Regions from separate parts of the Homo sapiens genome. Here region 2 is linked to region 1. Evidence: fine-mapped QTL for protein levels in blood plasma. A gene starts in region 1. The other region holds a variant in brackets. All regions are shown on one strand. Distances are from middle to middle.

Region 1 (11,443 bases):
AGGAATAGTGCCTTTTTTCTATGCTTCTTTAATATTCTTAATGCAGTGTGTTCAGAGTAACAAATGCAGCTATTGCCAGACTGATTAAATACTGTTATAAGAGAAAGAACTTCCTCATCTCTTGTCCCTCAATTTTTGTTTTGTATAAGACTGCAAATCTGTGCTGAGGCTGGAGCCAAGTTCAAAAACAAGTGTCTTTCATCCTCTCGCTTTTCTTGTACCTTTCTACCTCACTCTGGGTGAGTATTCCCACTCTACCCACAACCCAAACCACAGATAGTGGATGCTTACCAGTTCATTTCGAGGGCGAAAATTTTCATCCACGGAGACAACACGGAATCTTACTGGAAAAGTAGTTCTCCGATAAGATTCAGACATGATAAAGCAGGTAATTTGGGTAATAAGACAGGAGGCTACGGGGCTAGGATAATGGAGACTTTGGCTGTTCAGGTGGCCCTTCTCAGTGTTGCCCCAAACAGTGGAATTTCCCTACTTACCTGTCTGTCCTGGTTTATACATGGGTTTGTCTGTCTGGACAAAGACCAGACTTTGGGTGTTCAGTACCAGAACTGTGTTCCTCTTCCTGAAATCTTGCGTAGGCCCCTTTATCTGGATGCTAAGGAATGCCACCTCTGAAGAGGCTGAGATCCTTGGGAGCTAAAAAGCAAAGGATTTTTTACTACTGAGGAACTGTGCAGTCTTCTCCCTCTGCATTCTTCAGTCATTGCTATTTCCTATCTCTCCTTCAGCTTCACCAAGGAGAAGGAAGGTGTGACTATTTCTTCAGACATAAGAGTGACGATATTAATGTGAGATGGAGGAATGGTATCAGTAAGAGTGGCCATCAATAGAACCCAGATCTCCATGGAGTTCACCTAGAGCTCTAGTTATTAAATTAGATGCCTTTTAACTGAGTATGTATATTCTGAAGCAATGGAGAGAAACATCTCTGAAAAAATATGGGAGAGCATAGGAGCTGAGTTTCCCAAGTTAGGCAACTTTAAAGAGGTACTAGGTGTTTGCTTAGGGTATCCTGCATGTGCAAAAAATTATGTTGCATGCAAAGTTTTTATCATGAAATTTTCATATGATCTATTTCTAGGAAATGTCCAGCCCGATCCTTAAAGAGACAGTTACAATCAAAACTAGAAAACTCCTCTAAGTCATGAAATTTTTGTGGGCAATAGGATTATTATTTAGGAATGAAATTTAGAAGAGTATTTCTTCCTTACTCTGGTAAAAAATGCTTTGTTCCTTAATAGTTGAAAACTCACTATTTTTAGTCCTTTCTGAAGTCCTAACTACATTCCTTTTTTTTTTTTTTTTTTTTTTGAGACGGAGTCTCGCTCTGTCGCCCAGGCTGGAGTGCAGTGGGGCGATCTCGGCTCACTGCAAACTTCGCCTCCCGGGTTCACGCCATTCTCCTGCCTCAGCCTCCCAGGTAGCTGGGACTACGGGCGCCTGCCACTACGCCCGGCTAATTTTTTGTATTTTTGGTAGAGACGGGGTTTCATCTTGTTAGCCAGGATGGTCTCGATCTCCTGACCTCGTGATCTGCCCGCCTTGGCTTCCCAAAGTGCTGGGATTACAGGCGTGAGCCACCGCACCTGGCCCCTGAAGTCCTAACTACATTCTTAAAGTCATACCTTGGGATCGCACACCAGAGCTCCATCACCATGACCTATAGAGCTCAATAAAATGTATCAAGCAGGGATAGCCAGCTGGCACCGTAGCACTCACAGTGAAGGAGACACAGTGGAATAAGTCCTTCTCCGCCACCAGGTCAGTGAAGAGGCTCCTGTTTTCCCTGCCAGACTCCAAGGAAGCACTTACAGTCACTGTCTCATTCAGGTGGCTCAGAAGGACACAGCCCTTCTTAGGGGCCTCAGTGTGGAGCAGGGAGGGGACCAGCACCATATACTGCCTGGGAAAGGAAGAAGTCTAAATTAGAGAAAAACTGATGATAGTAAGCGTTTTCATCCATAAATGTGTTTTCATAACAATATGTATTAATTGGTGCAATCAGTTTTATTCTAAAAGTCAATGGACTAAGTCAATGGAGGTTCTGTCACAGATCAGCACAAAAATTTTATCTTTTACTCATCAGCCATGCCTCAGCCACACAATCTGGAGCCATACAACACTGGAGATTGCTTTCCAAGATGTTACAATTTCACAGGCATTCCTTGCTGTAAAGAGCAGTCTGAGCTCTTTAAACTTTAACTTTGACCTTTAAAAAGAATCTGAATTCTTGAATATATATCCATAAAAGTGCACGCACACAAACACACACACATATATAAAAAATTGGGAGTGATTATTCATTGTAAAAAGGACTTACATTAAAATCTGTCTAGATAAACATCACTTTGGAATGAACACCGTGACTAGATTTACAGAAATTCAACTGAAAGAACTTCAGTAAGCATATATCATTACACAAAATAACACATGTCTATATTGCAAAATCATTTTCTTAATATCAGCAACACTGAAAAAAAGTATTTGCTGTTTCTCTTAGGCTCCTCAGATACAGCTCAGTCAAAGTCAATATTTTATCAACGAGTTTGAAAATTTTGTCAATTATTTACATGCACAACTCCCTGCTACACACACACTACACAAACACACACTGTATTTTATTATCATTTCCCTTTATGCTCAATTTCTTGAGGCAATTAACATTAATAATTTAATATTAGTATGTCCATGTTTATAAACATGTTTGTTTCGAATCACATGGGTGGATAGGTTATCTTTTCAATAAAAAAAAACAAACAGGTTCAGGCTGGGAGAAGTGGCTTATACCTAGTTCCCGGCACTTTGGGAGGCTGAGGCAGGAGAGTCACTTGAGGCCAGGAGTTTGAGAACAGCCTGCACAACATTGTGAGGTCCCCCATCTCTACAAAAATTAAAATAAAAAATTTAGCCAGGTGGCACATGGCTGTAGTAGCAGTTACTCAGGAGGCTGAGGCAAGAAGGATCACTTAAGCCCACGAGGTTGAGGCTACAGTGAGCTATGATTGCACCAGTGCTTTCAGAGTGACAGAGTGAGACCCTGTTTCAAAAAAAAACAAAACAAAGTTTATATGAGTACTAAAAGTCATATTATTTTGAAAAGTCTTTTCTTTTTTATTTAAATTGTTGAAAGTTTTCAGTTTTTCAGAGGCACAGGCAATTTTTTGTGTAAGCCTCACATTCTGGCCTTAGCTTTATTGATGAGTGTCCTTTGTCTCTAATGCCCCCCACTCCATATTTTCCTGTCACTTTCCAGAAGCCTCCAATTCAATATAATCTCTCCACACTCTGAAATCCCATGGGCTGAAAGAGAATGTGTTTTTGTTGTTGCTGTTTTTGAGCATCTGCCACATGACAAGAATTGTTAAGCTGTCTCTGTATTAAGCCATTTAATCTTCCCAGCAATGCTGTAAGGTACATGCATGATACTCTCCATGTTCATGGAAGCTAAAACATGAGATCCTCATCAGTCCCCAAAACTTGAATCCATAACAGATAGATAAAATCCCTGCCCCCATGCCAAATCAGTAAAATCAGTAAATTGTGACTAAAATGTAACTCTTCAAAGCTTTAATGATTCAGTGATTCATGATTCAATATCTGCAGGGTTAGGCCATTTATAGAGTAAATTTGCAAGTAAAAACTATTATTTTCTTATATTATTTTACTACCCTTACTTTCCATTGCCAACATAAACTCTTACTTTTTAAATTGTTTTCTGGACAGGCAATTTGACACAAGAAACCCAATATTGTTGCTTTACAAAATTAATAGGTGTGAGACTAGGAGGAGAGAATCCAAGGATAATTGAGTTGTGGAATGTGGAACTCAAATTTGGTCCCCTCATCCTCCATGTAGTCTGCTCCAGCACACCAGTCTTGCTACATGTGTTTTAAAGTGTTCCTGGGCAAAACTATATGCCATGAATCTCCAGGGCCACTCTGAAATCATCCAAGTTTCAGATGATTTTACTGTATGAGTAGTAAGGTTTTGTTCTCTAGCAGAGAAGCTGAGGGCAGTTCAGTAACTCACTGATAGTCATTCAGCTAGTCTCTTATGTCTTAATCTTTTTCTGGTATCTGGATGCTTCTGATCTCCTGATCACTGCTCTTTTAACAGCATAATAAATAATAAAAATGTATCATTTTTTACATCCCCATCAAAAAATTTTTCCTTTAGTTCTTTGATCTTAATAAGAAGGTATATATATATTTATAATTTATTTACTATTTTTATTCTTATAAATTATAAGCCTAAAAGATATCACGATTAAAAATTAATTCCACATATATTTGATATTCTAAAGAACTATTTTATATGAGTTCAGTTAATATTTTTTTAACAGATATTGAAATCAGAACAAATCCAGGTTGACAAACTTGCCCAAGATGTCATTGGTAGTGAGCTGCTAAAATGTTTTAATATATGTTTACTCAATCATGAATGTTTGCATTTTAAATATTTGCCTCTTTAGCAGGGACTAAATGTAGCAAATATTAAAGTGATAACTTTTAATTTTCTCTTTTTCATTTTATTCCCCTGAAACCTTCATCTTTCTGAAGCTTACTGCCCCAAGGCAGGGGAGAATGGCTATTGGTTCTCTTTTGTAGTCTCTCACATTTATCACATCAAGGGTTAATTCTGGAGGGATGAAGTTAAGTTTTCTCCTTATAAAGGGAGAAAACACCCCTTCTGCTTGTGACAACTAGGGCATGAGGCTTGTTGTTCTTTGTTCAGTGGCAGACACAACGTAAAAGGATGGTTTCAATGGCAGCATGGTCCAATGTAGTGTAGGAATGCATCCAGAACCACAAATTGCTTAATGTTTCTGACCCAATACACGCTACTCGCTTTATCCATTCAGTCTGCTCTCAGAAAGCAAAATAGCCTCCACATATTCCCATATGCTTTCTGGATGGAGAGCAGCTGGAAGTAGTAGAGCCCACTGCTGTAGATGAGGTAGAGGGATAGTGGGGGAGAAATGTACCCCTACCGGTTGCCAGGAAATTGTGCAAGGAAAAAGCCTGAGGAAAGCAGGAGACTTACTGGATTGAACTCCTTATTTCTGCTTTCTGCGCTTTGGCCTGAAGAAGGCTATTTGTGTTAGATGGATAAGGGTAACACACAGAGCAGAGGGACCCCTTATCCCTTTCCCGATTTGGGACTCTGAAGACTTCCCTGTATCAGTCTGGAATACAGGAGACACGATAGGCATCTAGAAGTGCAGTGTGGGTATGCAAGAGAGAGGTAGAAGTTTAACCTCTCCAGGACACCTCAGTGCCTATGTGCTATTATTGGACCCAAGAGTTCTCACCATTCTCTGGAAGAAATGTAAAGGCAGCTGGGTTAAGGCCAGGGACCTTAAATGGCCTGGACTGCAAAGGGGCAAGGTGACCCTGCATCACAGGCTGTGTTGAAACAATAGCCATAGTATTTGAGGCAGGATGCAAAGGTAGGAGTTCTATGGGATATGAAACAGCTGAAGTGAGACAGTCAGTTAGAGAGGACTGTTGGGTCCTGAACACACAAGAGAAACCAGATGGCTAAACTTCAACAGTGCATGCCAGCAAGTAAGGAGAAGTCAGACTGACAGTAGCCAAGAAGGACGGAGAACTTTGAGACCAAGGACTCTGACAGTTTTCTCTATTAGGAGTTAATGGAGACCACAGTTCTCTAGACACTATAGAGGAGAGGAACTGGGGAGAGGTGGAAAAGAAGTCTTACAATTATTGAGTTGTACCAACTTACAACTGGATAGGGTTAAAATTATTTTCCCTGCTTTGGTCCCCCACTGGGGGCTGTTGGTGAAGACTTGATACATGATTGAAAAATAAAGGAGCTATACTTTCTGTATATATATATATGGCCTACAATACATGTTAAGTTGCACTTCACTATATATTTCGAATATCTCTATATTCAGTGCCTTCCATCCAAAAGAACTGTTCTGTGAAGTTGGGATCTAGTGTTTTATTTAATCATGCTTCCTAGTGACTAATCGTATTTATGACTCTGATTGGCCCAGTGTAGAAAAAATGATTTCAAGAATAGAGGATAAATGAAAGACAAACAAGGGATTAACTGGAATAATTTCTTATATTTGGAAGGTATTGTAATGAGTGGAAAGGTGGCATTTACAAAGGAAGGCAAAGCGAAGACACAAGGGAGAGACTGAAACGCACTCTGGAGGAAGGGGTCTTGAGTGAGACTTACGGTTCTGTAGAGTTTGAGTCACTGGCAGAAAGCAGGATAAGAAGTAGCACAAGACATAAATGAAGAAGTCTGTCTTTCCGCATTGTGAGGGATAAATCTCAGGGTTGTGTCCAACTCTCTGCCCTCAGCCTCGCCCTGGAGACCAGCTGAGTTTACCAGGCTTTATGTGGCCACTATGTACAAACAAGCCCCACCCCAAGGCCTCTGAATAGAGTTCAGAATTGAGCACAGATTCCCTAAAAGGGTCATTACTCTCAGTGGTTGCCTCATTTTTCTCAAGGCTAAATTCTGATAGGTACTGAGGCATGTCTGGAAGATAAAATTTGTATTCCATTTAGAATGAGCTTTGACAGCAAACCTCCTGATAAGGAACCTTCAACCTACCTTTCTCCATCTCTTTCAAAATCCTTACAAGCAGGTGACAAAGGATGCTGACAAAGAATGTCAGGGACATGTTACCATGATAGTAGCTCATGCATTGCAGATTCATTTCTGGGACTGAGTGAGTTATAACTATAGACTTTAGGGTTTTTGGGTTTTCTTTTTTAGCAGTTGATTGAGTACATGGTCCTGGAAGAAAGTGATATAAAATAAGGATTTCAAGAGTAGAGGATCAATGAAAGATAAAAGAGATAAAAGATCAAAGAGATTTTAGAAAGGAGTTATCAAAGATCACACTTGTCTATTTCACAGCATTGACCTGATCAGATTCTTAGTTGATCCTATCTGTCCTTGTTACTGTCTGAGCACTCTAACGTTTGAGTCCCTTAAACCATGTCATTGACTTTATCTGAGATTTTTTTTTTGAGCCATACTGTGTGCTAAGTGCTATTCTGGTGATGAAAATACAATATTGAACAGGATATTCAGTATCCATGCTCTCATAGAACTTGTAGTACAATGATGATCACATATAAACCACCAGCAGATTTAATGCCATCCTTAGACTGCAGACATTGGTGTCTGTTTACATACTGTATTGCTTGAAACTTTTTAAATCAACTTTCTTTCTCTTTCTCCATATTTCAGCCTAATCATCCCTTCTTTGGAGAGCAAATTCCTGGCCACACTGCTGAAAGTGGATTCCTTCCTATTAGTTTTTATTTCACATCTTTGTTTCTTTTGTCACATTATCATAGAATGAAATAATTTCTTTTAAATTATGAAATGTTATATATATATATACTCACAAATATAGAGAGCAAGATAAAAGACACTCGTACCTTACATGCACCCAACTTTAATAAAATTAAACACTTGCCAAGTTTGTTTAAGGTCATTTCTTCTTAAGAAATGAAAGATGGCAATGGTAGTGCTCTTTTAAAATTTGTCTAGAAGCTTTTCCAGTTTTTACCAGATCCACCAACCCAAAAAAAGAAATAAATCAAGACAAATATGGTTGGAGTTTCCTTTGTAATTCTCTCCAATCTCATTTCCCTTCCAATGTTGTGGGATTAGGAAGTTGATATGTATTCTTCAAGATGTGTTTATGTTTTTAATCCATATTTATGTAAATAATATATAGCATAATTTTGTGTTTTGTATTTTATATGTATAAGTGGTATGCACATATTGTAAAATATGTCATCACTATTATGGTTTTAAGACTTATTAGCATTGATAATGAGGATAAAATTTATTAATTTTAATGACCATCTATACGACATTCTATTGTATGAATGTGGCCGAACCTGTTACTCTATTCCCCTAGTGCTGAATTTTGGATTCTTCATAGTTTTCAACATTACAAATAATACTGCTACAAATACGGTATGTCTACTTAAGCATATTTGCAAGACTTTCTCTAGGGTATATAGCAGAGATTGGGTTATAGGCTATATATGTATGTACATCTTGAAATCTATCAGATTGGTAAATTGCTCTTCAGAGTATTACATGGATTTGAATACCCATCTGCAACAGTGGATATTTTCAGTTTATTATATATTTACCATCGTTTTACTCTGCTAGGCATTTTACTTTTTATCAATCTGATGAGTGAAGCAGTATCTTGCCTTAATTTTCATTATTAATGACTTTACACATCTTTTCATATGTTTATGGACCATTTGAATTCTACCATCAGTTTGATATCTCAACACAATATGTAAAGGGTCTATCAGGAACATCTCCTTGCCCCAGTTTCATGAGCCTTGGACTCTAGACGCTGCAATTTTATTTACTAAAGGCTTTAAAATGTGCTTCTAAATCTCTCAGCCAAATATTCTGGAGCTGTTAAATACCCTAAGGGGAAAGTGCCCTTAAACACAGAATTGCCCCTTTGGGTTGCTATGTTGCTTCTGAACTTTGGATTCATAATTCTTCACAGTCTTTGCTTTTCAATACCTCCAGTGAATATATATATAACCAACCATTCCTAATTTAAGTGGGAAGTTTGGTCTCAATTACCTTGTATACCATTACTGGAAAGGAAAGTCTTAAGTGTGTATTTTTATTTTATATAAAGAGTATTGGAAAAAGACCTTGCCTGTTTCTTATTCTTTTTAGTTATTGCTAGTTTTAAAACATCCTCCCATGTTTATATGTTTATATGTATGTATTTTATTAATTGCATTTTATTACAGTATAGCCCTCTTTGGTGATCATCCAAGAGGTTTAATGTTTCCACTCTCCTAATGATAAAAACAGGATTGTCTCTATTGTCCTGCCATGAGGAAATAATGCTTTGATAAATATCTTTTTACATATACCCTTTGAGACAGGTAAATCCTCTTGCAAGACGCATACACAGGAGTGAGATTGTTGTATGAGAGGCATGTACTTAAGTGACTAAATAGTGACAAATAACTCTCCAGAATGGTTGCATCACACCACAATTCTACCAGTAGTGCATGAGGATTTTCGTATCCCCATATTGCCACCAATACTCTAGCTTTTACATTTTTCTTCCAGTATTCCTTTAAATAAGCTTTCTGCTCATTTCCCTCTTTTCTCCTTCTAGGACTCCCATAATATGTGTATTTGCATGCTTGATGGTATTCCATAGGTCCCTTATACTTTCTTCACTCTTCTTTAATTTTTTTTCTTTTTTCACCTTTAATTAACTATTTACATGACCTGTCTTCAAGTTACTAATTCTTTCTTTTGTGTGACTGTGTTTGCTGTTGAAGCTCTCCATTAAAATATTCAGTTCTGTTCTTATATAATTTTTGTGTGTTTTTTCTTAATGGTTTCTATTTCTTTATTAAACTTCTCATTTTGTTCATACATTGTTTTTCTAATTTTATTTAGTTGTCTATCTGTGTTTTCTTGCATCTTACTGAGCATCTTTAAGATGATTATTTTGAATTTTGGGGGGAAATTTGTAGATCTCCATTTGGGGTGGAGATTAGTTACTGGAACTTCATTGGTTTCCTTTGGTGGTATTATGTTTGCCTGGTTCATCATTATCTGTGTAACTTTGCATTGGTTTCTATGCATCTGAAGGAGCAAACACCTTTTCCCATCTTTATAGACTGGTTTTACAGGTAAAGATCCTCAGGATCCTCCTGTTGGGTTCCCAGGATTGACAAGATTGCTTCCAGAATTGTGGTCAACTGGAGGTAGAGCCAGGTCACATGGTTTTGCTGGGTCAACAGTGAGGTCTGTGGTTGGCAGGCCTGTTAACTGGGGCTCTAGTAGGCTTAGATTCTGTCTGTTCCCTGGGTAAATTGGACTGCCTCCTAGACCTTGGTCAGTAGGTCTGGCACTGGGATGAGGGTCTACTTTAGAGTCCACAGATTGTAGGCTAGTTACGAGATATGTGGATGAATGTGGCTTCCTCTGGGTCCTTAGGAGGGCTCCTACTGGGTCACTGGGTAGGTTCCTAGGCAGACAGTGCTGGTCCAGATTGCAGCTGAGAGAAAAGAGAACCAAGTAACAGGGCTGCCTCAGGGCCTACAGCTGAGACCCAGGTCTTCAGGCCTGCCTCTGGGTTCATGAATGGGCATGTGTCCCACTGGGTCCCTGAGTGGGCAGGCCTGCTCTCAAATCACAGATGAGAGGGCCTGGAGCCAGTATACAGTGCTGTTTTAAGATCCACAGTGGGACCAAGTTCAGCCTACCAGGGCACTTGTGAGCATTTCTCCCATTAGGTCCCTGTGAGGGCAAGACTGCTCTTAGACTGCATCATAGAGGAGCTGGTACCAGATTTCAAGGCCATTTTAGGATTCACTGTATAAGAAAGAAAGTAGCCAATCATCTTTTCTAGTTTTTTTATGTTAGTTATTTTCTTTCATTAAATGTTATAACTAATATGTATAGTTGAGGCCATGGTAGAAACAGTAGTGACAAAAAACATAACTGTCTATGCAAGATAATAGGACAAATGTTTTCCAAATGAGGAAAAGAGTAGTTTTGTCTTAAAATATCTGATTTTTCCAGAATGTGAAATGGGACAGTGAAAGAGAAAATCTGAATGAATGTGCAATAAAGTTTGCAGGAAAGGAAATTATTTCCTTCATTTATAACATTGAATCTGAAAAAAAAAACCAGTAAATTTTTTCCATAGTTGGCTATTTTTTACAATTTTTAAATGGACACAAATTCCCATTACATAACATTTATTACATTACAGTGTACAATTCAGTGGCTGTTAGTATGCTCATGGTGTTATGTAATTATTACCACTATGAAATTATGGAACATTTCCATCACCCCCAAAAGAAACTACATACATGTTAGTAGTCACTTCCTATTTTCAACAAGTAGAAATACTAATTCGTGCATTCTCTGCAAACACTAATCTACTTTATATTTTTATGAATTTACCTATTTGGACATTTCATATTAATAGAATCATAATATATGTGGCCTATGTTGTGTGGCTTCTTTCACATAGCGTGATGTTTTCAAAGTTCTTCCATGTTGTAGCATATATATAGTACTTCATTCCTTTACATGAGTGAACGATATTGAACAATATTCCAATGTATGGACATACCACATTTTGTTTATCCATTCCTCAGTTGATAGACATTTGAGTTATTCTCATTTATTAGCTATTGTGAATAATTCTGCTATAAATATTTGTATACAAGTGTTTGCATGAGCATATGATTTCATTTTTTGGGGGAATATATACAGGAGTGAATCTGTGGGTCATATGGTAGCTCAGTGTTTAACTTTTTGCAGAACTGCCAGACTATTTTTCACAGTGGCTGAAACATTTTAAATTCCCACCAGCAGTGTATGAACATCCCATTTTCTCCAC
Region 2 (11,443 bases), 38 kb before region 1:
CACCTTTAAGGGCTGCACCTTAAACTTATAGTTGTCCAGAATAGAAAATAAGGCTAAAAAAAAAGAAACCCACAAGGTTAATGTATACTAAGTAGCCAATGTCCAAGATAGTGATTCTGGGGACTAGCTTGGGTGAGAACAGTGGGAGGAGGTCATAGTGGATAGAAATAGGAAAAAAAACTAACTTTATAGAATTATATCTATGGCAAATAAAAGAGAGAATATGATGAAAAAAGTACTCAGACAGCCACCGTCCTTGTTGATTGATAGGCCCTTTTGGGTACTGTCACTCACCCAGAGTTTTAGGAGTCACTGTCCAAGACAAGGTTTGTCTCTCATTTCCACAGATACAATAGGATTCTTCTCCCTTTGTATTTTGGGAAGCTAGGAAGGCTGGAGAGGCTTTCAGCTGCACACTGACCTATCACCCCATGTGAGGCAGAGACAGAAATGATCAGAATATGGAACGACACGAACACATAGAATTGGGGCCAAGTGTGAGATGCTGCAGTAAATTGGGATTTGTAAGAAAAATGTATGTCACATAGATTCATCCATGCTTTAAGAAGCATGGCAATGGCAATGATACAAATCAAGATTGGTTGTGTATTAGGAGGATTTGGCATTTGCCTTAGGGTAGCTTGTGGACGTGCAGGCTTGGCAGTGGCAGAGGAAAGGGAAAAGCAGTGATTGTATATTGCCCTAGGGAATACTATCTGCTGCTATGTAGATTTTCATAGTTTCTTCCTTCCTTTCTTCTCCTATTTCTTACAACATATATTACATGTCTAATCCATACAAGACATAAAACACTGGGAATGGTAGATGAGAGGCTCCCGATCTTGAGGATATTGTGTCACAAGAAAGATGATCTATATACAACCACTATTACATAATTTACAAAGAGATAAGTGCTATAAGATAAATTAAAATTATATATTTTGGAGATTTCAAGATGACGGGTTGGAGAATGACTCTCGTGGAACTGAGAAAGCTGAGTTGTGTGTCAGCTTCAAGAATGTTCCTGGCATATAACCTAACTTGCAGCAAAGAATTCTGCAAGCGCTAAGAAATAGAAAAGCAAGGTGTGGCTTAGAGAGCCGTGATTTAAGCACCCATAGCACATATATCATTGTATTATCTTTCTGATCATGTCCTGCTTTGCATAGCACTAATTATTCACAGTGCTAACACACAATCCCTTGAATTATCCTTAGTCTCAGGAACAGAATCAGTAGCTGACTGATCAAAGGAATCTTTTGTTCTACCCACCTTTCCTGTTCACCCTCATTTTCCTTACCCGGATGCATTTGGGAAGGTAGTTTAGGACCGTGGCCTTGAGTGTGAAGACCTCTCCACGAATCACAGAGTAAGGCATTGTGAGCTCCACAAAGAAGGGCTGGAAGGCTCGGAGAGAGGCAGTGGAAGAGATACCAAGTCCAGCATCTTCGGACAGGCAGAAGGCCCCTGCCTTCCACTCGGTGATGGTGTCAGGGACTGTTACTCCTACCTCAGCCACACCTGATGAGCTGGGGAGGAGGGCAAGTGAAGAACAGAAATAATGAATGTAAGCCACCTTTTCTCAAGTGAGAATTAATATGCATAAAGCTAACGTCAAGAACTGAATCCACTTAAGGGTATATGCGAGTGTGCATTCGTGTGAACACTAGATTATGTCCTGGGATCTGAGTTGGGAAAATGAAAGCCACTGAATGGTACCTCTCCCCCTTATCAACAAATGATCATATCCCACATGTCTGTACTTTGAATAAAAATATTTGAATTGCGATTCATTTTAGTCCTTAACTTCCCTTGCTATTGTATAATCCCATAAATAAGCATTTTTAAGAATCATGACCAACAATTAGACCACTGGATTAATGTAGCCTGATTTGTTTATGTGCCTGCTCCAGCCCTGATATTTACAGAAGGCTCCCTGAACGACATTAAGCAGTATATATAGAACTGAATATTTATAGTTCTCATGTCTACTATTTGACAGTATCAGAAATAATTATTTTAGAATTGCTCAGCACTGAGACAATTGTATTAATGAGCCTATGCAATTGCGCATTTTACTTAGGTCTATCCTAAAGAGGAAGAGGTTAAGATAATTATTCAGAACTTTTCAGGAAGATTGTCTTAGAATTGAAAATGTTGGAGGAACCACATTCCCTCCCCTCCAGCAAATGGAGGAAAGTAAAGTTACTTACTTCACTGCCACCAACTCCCAGATCCAAGTCTCAGGAAAATAGCTTCGCACCGTTTCAGGGACTGGCCCTGAACTTTGTTCATTATTTAAGGGTATCACATTATATGTGCCTAATTGAGGAACATATGGTCTCTCTACTACTCCTAGACCTGCTAAAGTAAGAGAAAATTGTCTAGTTAGGGAAAAACATTCATTAATTTCATGGTGCACATGTGAGACGTTAGAGAACAAAATTTTCAGTTTTCCTGCTCAGACTGTCCTAAAAGTCTTGTAGAAGTTGTAGAACTTGGGAAATACTTTGTGATCCCTCATTCCCTGAAAAGAGAGGAGTCTTTGTCAAAGGTGGAAATTCTATGTATCCTAGACATAGCATAATTTGATGTGAATGGAAGCTGGAAAAACGAGATCACTTGGAGACAGTTTTATGGGTTTTGTGGCGAAGGACCAATTTTGAAATTGAGACAGTATTGCTTCATTCTTAGAGAAACTGAGCAGGAATTGTAAAATGCTCTTTAGACATTGAGAGTGGTTGCTATACTAAAAATGAAATTACCAGTGGAGTGAACAGAATTTAATGATTTACATTAAATTACTTTTACATAAATTAAATTTACTTTAAATCACTGTATGGAACTTTGCAAAACTGTTGTTCTCTGGGAAATAAGATTAGAGCATTAGATTTTATTCCACTTATTTTTTGACATCTGAAATAAACAATTCAGTTGTCAAAAACAGATATTTCCATTTGGAATGGCTGTGTGGTTCAGACAAAGAAATCATTTACCAACGTGAGAGGGTGGAGAGCTAGACATGAAAGCAATTTTGTCCACGTTGTGCCTGAAATCATGCTTACTAATTGAATTTGATTTAAGATCTCCCTCCATGTATCCCATCTGATATTTCAGAAATACCTTGTGAAAGAATACTTACAAGGAAAAATATATTTCTAGCAATTTCACCCTAACAGTTTTCTCCACTGAAGAAAGCATCAGTAGTAATTTCTTTAGTGAATATCATACACCTTGCCCCATGTCCTTCCAAGTGGTAACAATTTCTATCTCTGACTCTGATTTCTCACTGTTTTGTCTTCTCTGTCTTCACTCTTATCTTAAATATTGAAATATCTAAAAGGATGATGCACCTAAATGAACTATTTTCCATTTTCTACTGGATATGTCAAGGGCCCTCCAACTCCTCCAGTTATTGCAGTTAACAAACCATGGCATTATGTGTTATTTCAACTCCATTTAGTGGACCATGGCTATATCCTTCCTACTCTTACTGTCAACTTGACTTTCCACGTGTCCTTTCATAGTCTCTGCATCAAAGCTTTGTGTATCAGACCCAAGACCCTGGTGGCATGGGCTCACAAGGGTATCTCCTGATCCATGGGTTGCAGAGATCCTTGGGAGAAATGTGATTTCCCAGGCGAGGTCGCACAATCACTCACCGCTTCCCTTGGCTGGGGGTGGGGGTTCCTTCCGTTGCCCTCCCCCACCTCCACCCCTGCTGCTTTTCATTGTTCTCTGTAGTCATGGAAATGGCTTCATGTTGTTGAAGTTCTTATCAAGAAATTTCACAAGATATTTCAGTTTTCTTAGCTCTTTTATTTCCTCATATACCTGATTCATTTATAGCTACTAATTTCAATCCCTGTTATGTATTCATCACACATTTTAGAAGCTCTTTTTTTCCTGAGTGTTATTATATGCCGTCAATTTTCCATCTTGAATTTAATAAATTCAAGAACATTTCCTTCCCCCCAAACCTCAATGGTTTAAACTTGAAGTTTGTTCTATGTAAATCTCATGGCTATTTTCCTTTCCCTTATTCTTTATTCTCGTTATTTATATAACATCTCAGTTACAAGACAAAATCATATTTACCATTTTTGAGAAATTGTTTGAAATTTGTGCTATCATTGAAGGTATACTTAAACAGTCCATGGCCCTTTAAAAGGTGTCATTTTCTTAATAATAAAGCTCATTTAAAGATGGATATTAATCTTAAATGCCAAGGAACATAGAAAATGCTATTTAAACAATCAAAGTTCTTAATTTGTGTTGGTGCATTATATTTAGTTATCTTATTGGGCGTTTTGCAAGGTCTTGAAGAGCCATTAGTCAAATTCCTTCAATTTATTAATGAAGGATTTGAGGCTTAGAGAGGAGATATGACACACCCACTTCACATATAGGATATCTGATTTCCAATCCGAGCATATAAATATTTGTGAGCAGATGGATGTCAGGGATATTTTGGAGAAAAAGGGAGTTGGATTCATGAGAGAGGGATGACAAATGGCTGGGTAGTGTTCAAGTGTAAGTAGACCTGGTGATGGGACAGATGTTTTAATAAGTTCAAGGGTGTTGAAAAAGGCTGCTGTATTTGAATAGTGGTTTTGGCCATGGATTATGAGATATTTCTGTGATGTTCACGTTGTTTCTTGTCACCAGTGAAGCCCTTTGTCCTTCTTTATGTTTTTTAAAATACAGCATCCCTATGAATGTCTTTCCTGTTTCCATAATCAGAATTACTCTTTCTTTCCATTGTCAGCATTTTCCCTCTCTTACAGTACATCAGAATCTTGTATTTTATCTGATTTTGTGCCCTGAAGTATCGGATGTATCTAAAAAAAAATCTCTGATCAGTTCTAGCTATCACCAGCTAAGTCACCTCAGCAAGAAACAATTAATTTGAATCTTGGTTTCTTTGTGTGTATAAAGTGGAAATAGGGCTACATTACCTCATTTTAGCATTTTGGGCATAGTAATATTGTTGGACATGAAATAAAATTAAAAGCAAATTGCTGTTTTACCTCCATAGTATCCTTGACCTACTGCTCCTGCAGACACGGAAGGGATGACTGAACACGACTTTGGTTTTC[G/A]GATTTTTGAGTTAGTGAACACCTTCAATCCCATCCCCTGGAAAAAAATAATTGTTCAATCTACTTGTAAGCTTGATTAGAATATATAAAACATATTATCCTTAGAGACTTCTCTATGTAATTCCAGTATCCTTATATTAATTCTATGGCGAAACACTTGACAGTAAATATAGAGTAGTGAAATTACTAAACTTATGGATTATTAAGATTTTATTCTTTATTCATTATTTTTTGGTTTGCAAATAAAAAAACCTAAATATAACTAAAAAGTATCCAGATGAATAGGCAGAGGTTAGATCTAGCCCTGACTCACATACTGAGCTTTTGTGTGATCCTCACAAGAGACTTTAACCTTTTTATTGGCTTCATTTTTGTCTGCTGAAAAATGGAGAGGCAAGGCTACATAATTACTAAGATTATGAATAGATACAGAGTTTTATTAACATTCAAAAACTCACAAGCCAGCATGTTAATAAGTAGTGAGAATTTTACCTTGAGGAAGCTATAAATATCTGCTTCATTACTTGATAAGGGAACATAGATGGCTCCATTATGAATGAAGAAAGGACGGGGACAGTGTCCTTGTTCTTCCTCCTGCTGGTCCACATTGTCAGGAAAATTGGTGAGATCCTTCACAGTTAGCAGATTATATACCTGTAGCAGTGGGGGGATCAAAGGCAGAACTGTTACTTACTTTTCTTTTGAAATAGAATGAACTGAGAGAAATAAAATAATTATCACCAATCTTTTCTTGAGTACGTTCATGTAGTTGGTACCTTAGAGATAGTTGAAGATTTTCCTTATATTTAACAGTGTTGTTTTGTTATAAAGAAATGAAACCTACTTGGGAAAATGCTTCCAAAGATTAACAAAATCTTAAGTTATGAAGGATTAATTAAAACTTCATTGTAGAGTCTAGAGGTAAAAATAGACCAAATATAGAAAGAAGACGTAACTTGCATCTGTGTTTAATTAATACATAATGCCCTGAGGAATTTAGCTACATATTATTATTGCCACCTGTTAAACATCTATGTCTACTCAGGCTTATTCTCAGACAGAAAATCGTATAGATGGCCCATTAGAAGCAGCTGCGGTCTGCAGCACTTACGGAGTGGAATGAAAAAGCTTATTAAATGCAGCACCTTCAACTGAAATACCCAGGTTCTCACATTGAGACTGACTAGGCAAGCAACTTGAGCCACAGAGAACAATGAAAAGCAGCAGGGGCGGAGGTGGGGGAGGGCAACGGAAGGAACCCCCACCCCCAGCCAAGGGAAGCGGTGAGTGATTGTGCGACCTCGCCTGGGAAATCACATTTCTCCCAAGGATCTCTGCAACCCATGGATCAGGAGATACCCTTGTGAGCCCATGCCACCAGGGTCTTGGGTCTGATACACAAAGCTATGTGGAGTCTTGGCAGAGCAGCTGCTCAGGCACACAGAAACCCTGGAGTTTTACATAATCCGGCCCTGGGATCCCTGGAAAGGCAGGAAATCTGTTTGTATATATCCCTAGGAAGGGGGCTAAATTCAGAGAGCCAAAGAGCATCATCCTGTGGACCCCACTTCCACAGCACCTCACAGGTTAAGACTCACTGTCTTGGAATCTCAGCCAGCCGACGGCAGTGGGTTGGAGTCCACCTGAGATGGACCTGAGTTCCTGCAGGGAGAGGTGGGTGCCATCTCTGTGGTTCTGAGGACTCAGCCACTCCAGCCTGAAGGCTTGGGGAATACAGATGGTCTGGATGAGGAACGGTCCCCCACGATGCAGCACAGCTGCCTTGCCAGATTGTGATCAGACTGCTTCTTTAAGTGGGACCCTGATCCATTCCTCCTCATCGAGTGGGACCTTTCTGTGGGGGCTTCAGGTACTCCAGCCAGGGTTCTAAAGACAGAGCTTTGATCTCTCCCTGGGACCGAGCTCCTGGGGGGCAGGGGTGTCTGCCATCTCTGCAGTTTGGTTGACTCTGCCACTCCAACCTGCTGGCTTTGGAGAATACAGGTGATCCAGGTGAGGAAGGATCCCACCCAATGCAGCCCACCTGCTCTACCAAAAAGCAGCCAGGCTGCTTCTTTGAGAAGGTCCCTGATCCCATTCCTCCTGACTGGGCGAGACCTCCCAATGAGGGTCTCCAGCCACCTCCAACAGTTGCATGTGGGCTGGCAACAAGTTAGTACCCCCACAGGATGGAGTTTCTAGAGGAAGGCACAGGCTGCCATCTTTGCTGTTTCATGGCCTTTGCTGGTGATACTTCCACGTACGGGAGAAACCAAAGCAACTGGGGTCTGGAGTGGACCCCCAGCAAACCTCAGCAGCCCTATGATAGAGTGGCTTGACTGCTAAAAGAAAAACAAACAAACAAACAGAAAACAACAGCATCAACAAAAAAGACCTAACACAAATCTAATTCAAAGGGCAGCAGCCTCAAGGATTAAAGGTAGATAAGTTCACAAAGATGAGAAAGAATTAATTCAAAAACAACGAAAACTCAAAATGCCAGAGTGTCTCTTCTCTTCCAGATGACTGTGACACCTCACCAGCAAGGGCACAGAACCGGGCTGAGGCTAAGAATTGACAGAAGTAGACTTCAGAAAGTGGATAACAATAAACTTTGCTGAGCTGTAACCCAATGAAAAGAAGCTGAGAATCATGATAAAACAATACAGGAGCTGGTAGCCAGAATAGCCAGTTTAGAGAGGAACATAACTGACCTGATGGAGCTGAAAACCGCATCTCAAGAACTTCACAATGCAATCACAAGTATCAGTAGCAGGATAGACCAAGAGGAGGAAAGAATCTCAGAGCCTGAAGATTATCTATCTGAAATAAGACAGGCAGACTAGAATAGAGAAGAAAGAATGAAAAGAAATGAACAAAACCTCTGAGAAATATGGGATTATGTAAAAAGACCAAACCTATGACTGATTGGGATCCTTGAAAGAGACAGGGAGAATGGAACCAAGTTGGAAAACATACTTCAGGATATCATCCAGGAGAACTTCCCCAACCTAGCAAGACAGGCCAACATTCAAATTCAGGAAATGCAGAGAAGGCCAGTAAGATACTCCACAAGAACATCAACCCAAAGACACAAAATCATCAGATTCTCCAATGCCAAAATGAAAGAAACCATGTTAAGGACACCTAGAGAGAAAGGCCAAGTCACCTACAAAAGGAAACATATCATACTAACAGTGGACCTCTCTGCCAAAACCATGGAAGCCAGAAGAAATTGGGGGCCAATATTCAACATTCTAAAAGAAAATAATTTCCAACCCAGAATTTTATACCTGGCCAAACTAAGCTTCAAAAGCAAAGGAGAAATAAGATTCTTTTCAAACAAGTGAATGGTTAGGAAATTTATCAACACAAGGCCTGCCTTGCAAGAGCTCCTGAAGAAAGCACTACGTTTGGAAAAGAAAGACCATTACCAGCCACTACAAAAACACACTGAAGTACACAGGCCAGAACACTATGAAGCAATCACATAAACAAGTCTGCAAAAAAGCATCATGATGACAGGATCTAATTCACCCATAAAAATACTAACCTTAAATGTAAATGGGCTAAATGCTCTAGTTAAAAGACACAGAATGGCAAGCTGAATAAAGAGCCAAGACCCATCATCAGTATGCTATCTTCAAGAGACTCATCTCACACGCAAGGACAGACACAGGCTCAAAATAAAGGGATGGAGGAAAATTTACCAAGCAAATGGAAAACAGAAAAAAGCAATCCTAGTTTCTGACAAAACAGACTTTAAACCAACAAAGATCAAACAAACAAAGAAGGGTAGTATATAATAGTAAAGGATTCAATTCAACCAGAAGAGCTAACTATCCTAAATATATATGCATCCAATACAGAAGCACCCAGATTCATAAAGCAAGTTCTTATATACCTACAAAGAGACTTAGACTCCCACACAATAATAGCGAGAGACTTTAACACACCACTGACAATATTAGACAGATGATTAAGACAGAAAATTAACAAAGATATTTAGGACCTGAACTCAACTCTGGATCAAGTGGACCTGATTGATATCTACAGAACTCTCCACCAAAATTCAACAGAATATACATTCTTCTCATTGCCACATGGCATTTACTCTAAAATTGGACACATAATTGGAAGTAAAACACTCCTCAGCAAATGCACAAGAACTGAAATCATAACAGTCTTTCAGACGACAGTGCAATCAACTTAGAACTCAAGATTAAGAAATTCACTCAAAACCACACAACTATATGGAAATTGAATAAACTGCTCCTGAATGACTCTTGGGTAAACAATGAAATTAAGGCAGAAATCAAGAAGTTATTTGAAACTAATGAGAACAAAGAGACAATGTACTGCAATCTCTGGGATGCAGCTAAAACAGTGTTAAGTGGGAAATTTATAGCACTAAGTGCCTGCATCTAAAAGCTAGAAAGATATCAAATCAACAACCTAACATCTCAACTAAAAGGACTGTAGAACCAAGAGCATACAAACCCCAAAGCTAGCAGAAGACAAGAAATAGCAAAGATCAAAGCTGAGCTGAAGGAGATAGAGACATGAAAAACCCTCTTAAAAAAACAATGAATCCAGGAGCTGGTTTTTTTGAAAAAAAGTTAATAAAATAGATAGACTGCTAGCTAGACTAATAAAGAAGAAAAAAAGAAAAGAATCAAGTAGACACAATCAGAAATGATAGGGGAATATCACCACTGACCTCACAGAAACGCAAACAACCATCCGCAAATACTATAAACACCTCTGTCTATATAAGCTAGAAAATCTAGAAGAAATGGATAAACTACTGGACACATACACCCTCCCAAGACTGAACCAGGAAGAAACTGAATATTTGAATAGACCAATAACGAGTTCTGAAATTGAGGCAGTAATAAATAATCTACCAACCAAAAAAAGCCCAGGACCAGATGGATGCACAGCTGAATTCTACCATAGGTACAAAGAAGAGCTGGTACCATTTCTACTAAAACTATTCCAAAAATTGAAAAGGAGGGACTCCTCGCTAACTCATTCTATGAGGCCACCATCATCTTGATACCAAAACCTGGCAGAGTCACAACAAAAAAAGAAAGCTTCAGGCGAATATCCCTGATGAACATCGATGCAAAAATCCTCAACAAAATACTTGCAAACCAAATCCAGCAGCACGTCAAAAAGCTTATCCACCACAACCAAGTAGGCTTCATCCCTGGGATGCAAGCTTGGCTCAACATACACAAATCAATAAGTGCGATTCATTACATAAACAGAACTAAAGACAAAAACCACATGGTTATCTCAATAGGTGCAGAAAAGGCCTTTGATAAAATTCAACATCCCTTTATGTTAAAAACTCTCAATAAACTAGGTATTGAAGGAACATACCTCATAAGAGCCATATATGACAAACACACAGCCAATATCATACTGAATGGGAAAAAGCTGGGAGCATTCCCCTTGAAAACTGGCACAAGACAGGGAAGCCCTCTCTCACCACTCCCATTCAACATAGTATTGGAATTTCTGGCCAGGGCAATCAGGCAAGAGAAATAAATAAAGTGTATTCGAATAGGAAGAGAGAAAGTCAAATTATCTTTATTTGATTTTATATCTAGAAAACCCCATTATCTCAGTCCAAAAGATTCTTAAGCTGATAAGCAACTTCAGCAAAATCTCAGGATACAAAATCAATGTGCAAAAATCACAGGCATTTCTATACACCAACAACAGGCAAGCAGAGATCCAAATCATGAATGAACTCCCATTCACAATTGCTACAGAAAGAATAAAATACCTAGGAATACAGCTAACAAGGGAAGTGAAGGACCTCTTCAAGGAGAACTACAAACCACTGCTCAAGGATATCATAGAGGACACAAACAAATGGAGAAACATTCCATCCTCACGCATAAGAAGAATCAGTGTAATGACAATGGCCATACTGCCCAAAGTATTTTATAGATTCAGTGCTATTCCCATTAAACTACCATTGACATTCTTCACAGAATTAGAAAAATCTATTTTAAAATTCATATGGAACCAAAAAAGAGCCTGAATTGCCAAGACAATTCTAAGCAAGAAGAACAAAGCTGGAGGCATCATGTTACCTGACTTCAAACTTTACTACAAGGTTACAGTAACCAAAACAGCATGGTACTGATAAAGAACAGACACATAGACCAATGGTACAGAATAGAGAACTCAGAGATAAAACCGCAAACCTACAACCATCTGATCTTTGACAAACTTGACAAAAACAAGCAATGGAGGAAAGGCCTCCCTATTTAGTAAATGGTGCTGGGAATGCTGGCTAGCCTTATGCAGAAAATTGAAACTGGACC

Direction of the effects. Positions count from the first base shown, and alleles are read on the strand shown. Strength reflects both the effect of a copy and how common the allele is.
As copies of A replace G in region 2, the plasma level of the protein whose gene starts at base 6,368 in region 1 goes down (moderate association).

What was found. PIP is the chance, under the fine-mapping model, that this variant and not a neighbour inherited with it causes the effect. The UK Biobank Pharma Proteomics Project read protein levels with antibody pairs (Olink). The fine-mapping took linkage between variants from a reference panel, not from the people measured, so its PIPs are less certain.
Region 2: its variant is fine-mapped to the plasma level of the PZP protein (UK Biobank, PIP above 0.99). The variant lies in the coding sequence of PZP. If it changes the protein, the assay may bind it differently, which can mimic a change of level.

Annotation. Positions count from the first base shown.
Region 1 is chr12:9,202,028-9,213,470 of GRCh38, forward strand. PZP (PZP alpha-2-macroglobulin like) reads right to left here and starts at 6,368. Exons shown (of 36, transcript NM_002864.3): 1 at 6,232-6,368; 2 at 1,741-1,924; 3 at 498-657; 4 at 292-344. The coding sequence starts at 6,314. It also overlaps a transcript of KLRG1 not described here.
Region 2 is chr12:9,163,839-9,175,281 of GRCh38, forward strand. PZP (PZP alpha-2-macroglobulin like) reads right to left here. Exons shown (of 36, transcript NM_002864.3): 16 at 5,592-5,753; 17 at 5,031-5,136; 18 at 2,214-2,364; 19 at 1,301-1,529; 20 at 295-421. It also overlaps a transcript of KLRG1 not described here. Among named protein-coding and RNA genes, the nearest start is that of PZP, 39 kb to the right of the region's middle. RefSeq lists an enhancer at 6,263-6,774. The variant G/A (reference allele first, on the strand shown) is at 5,100.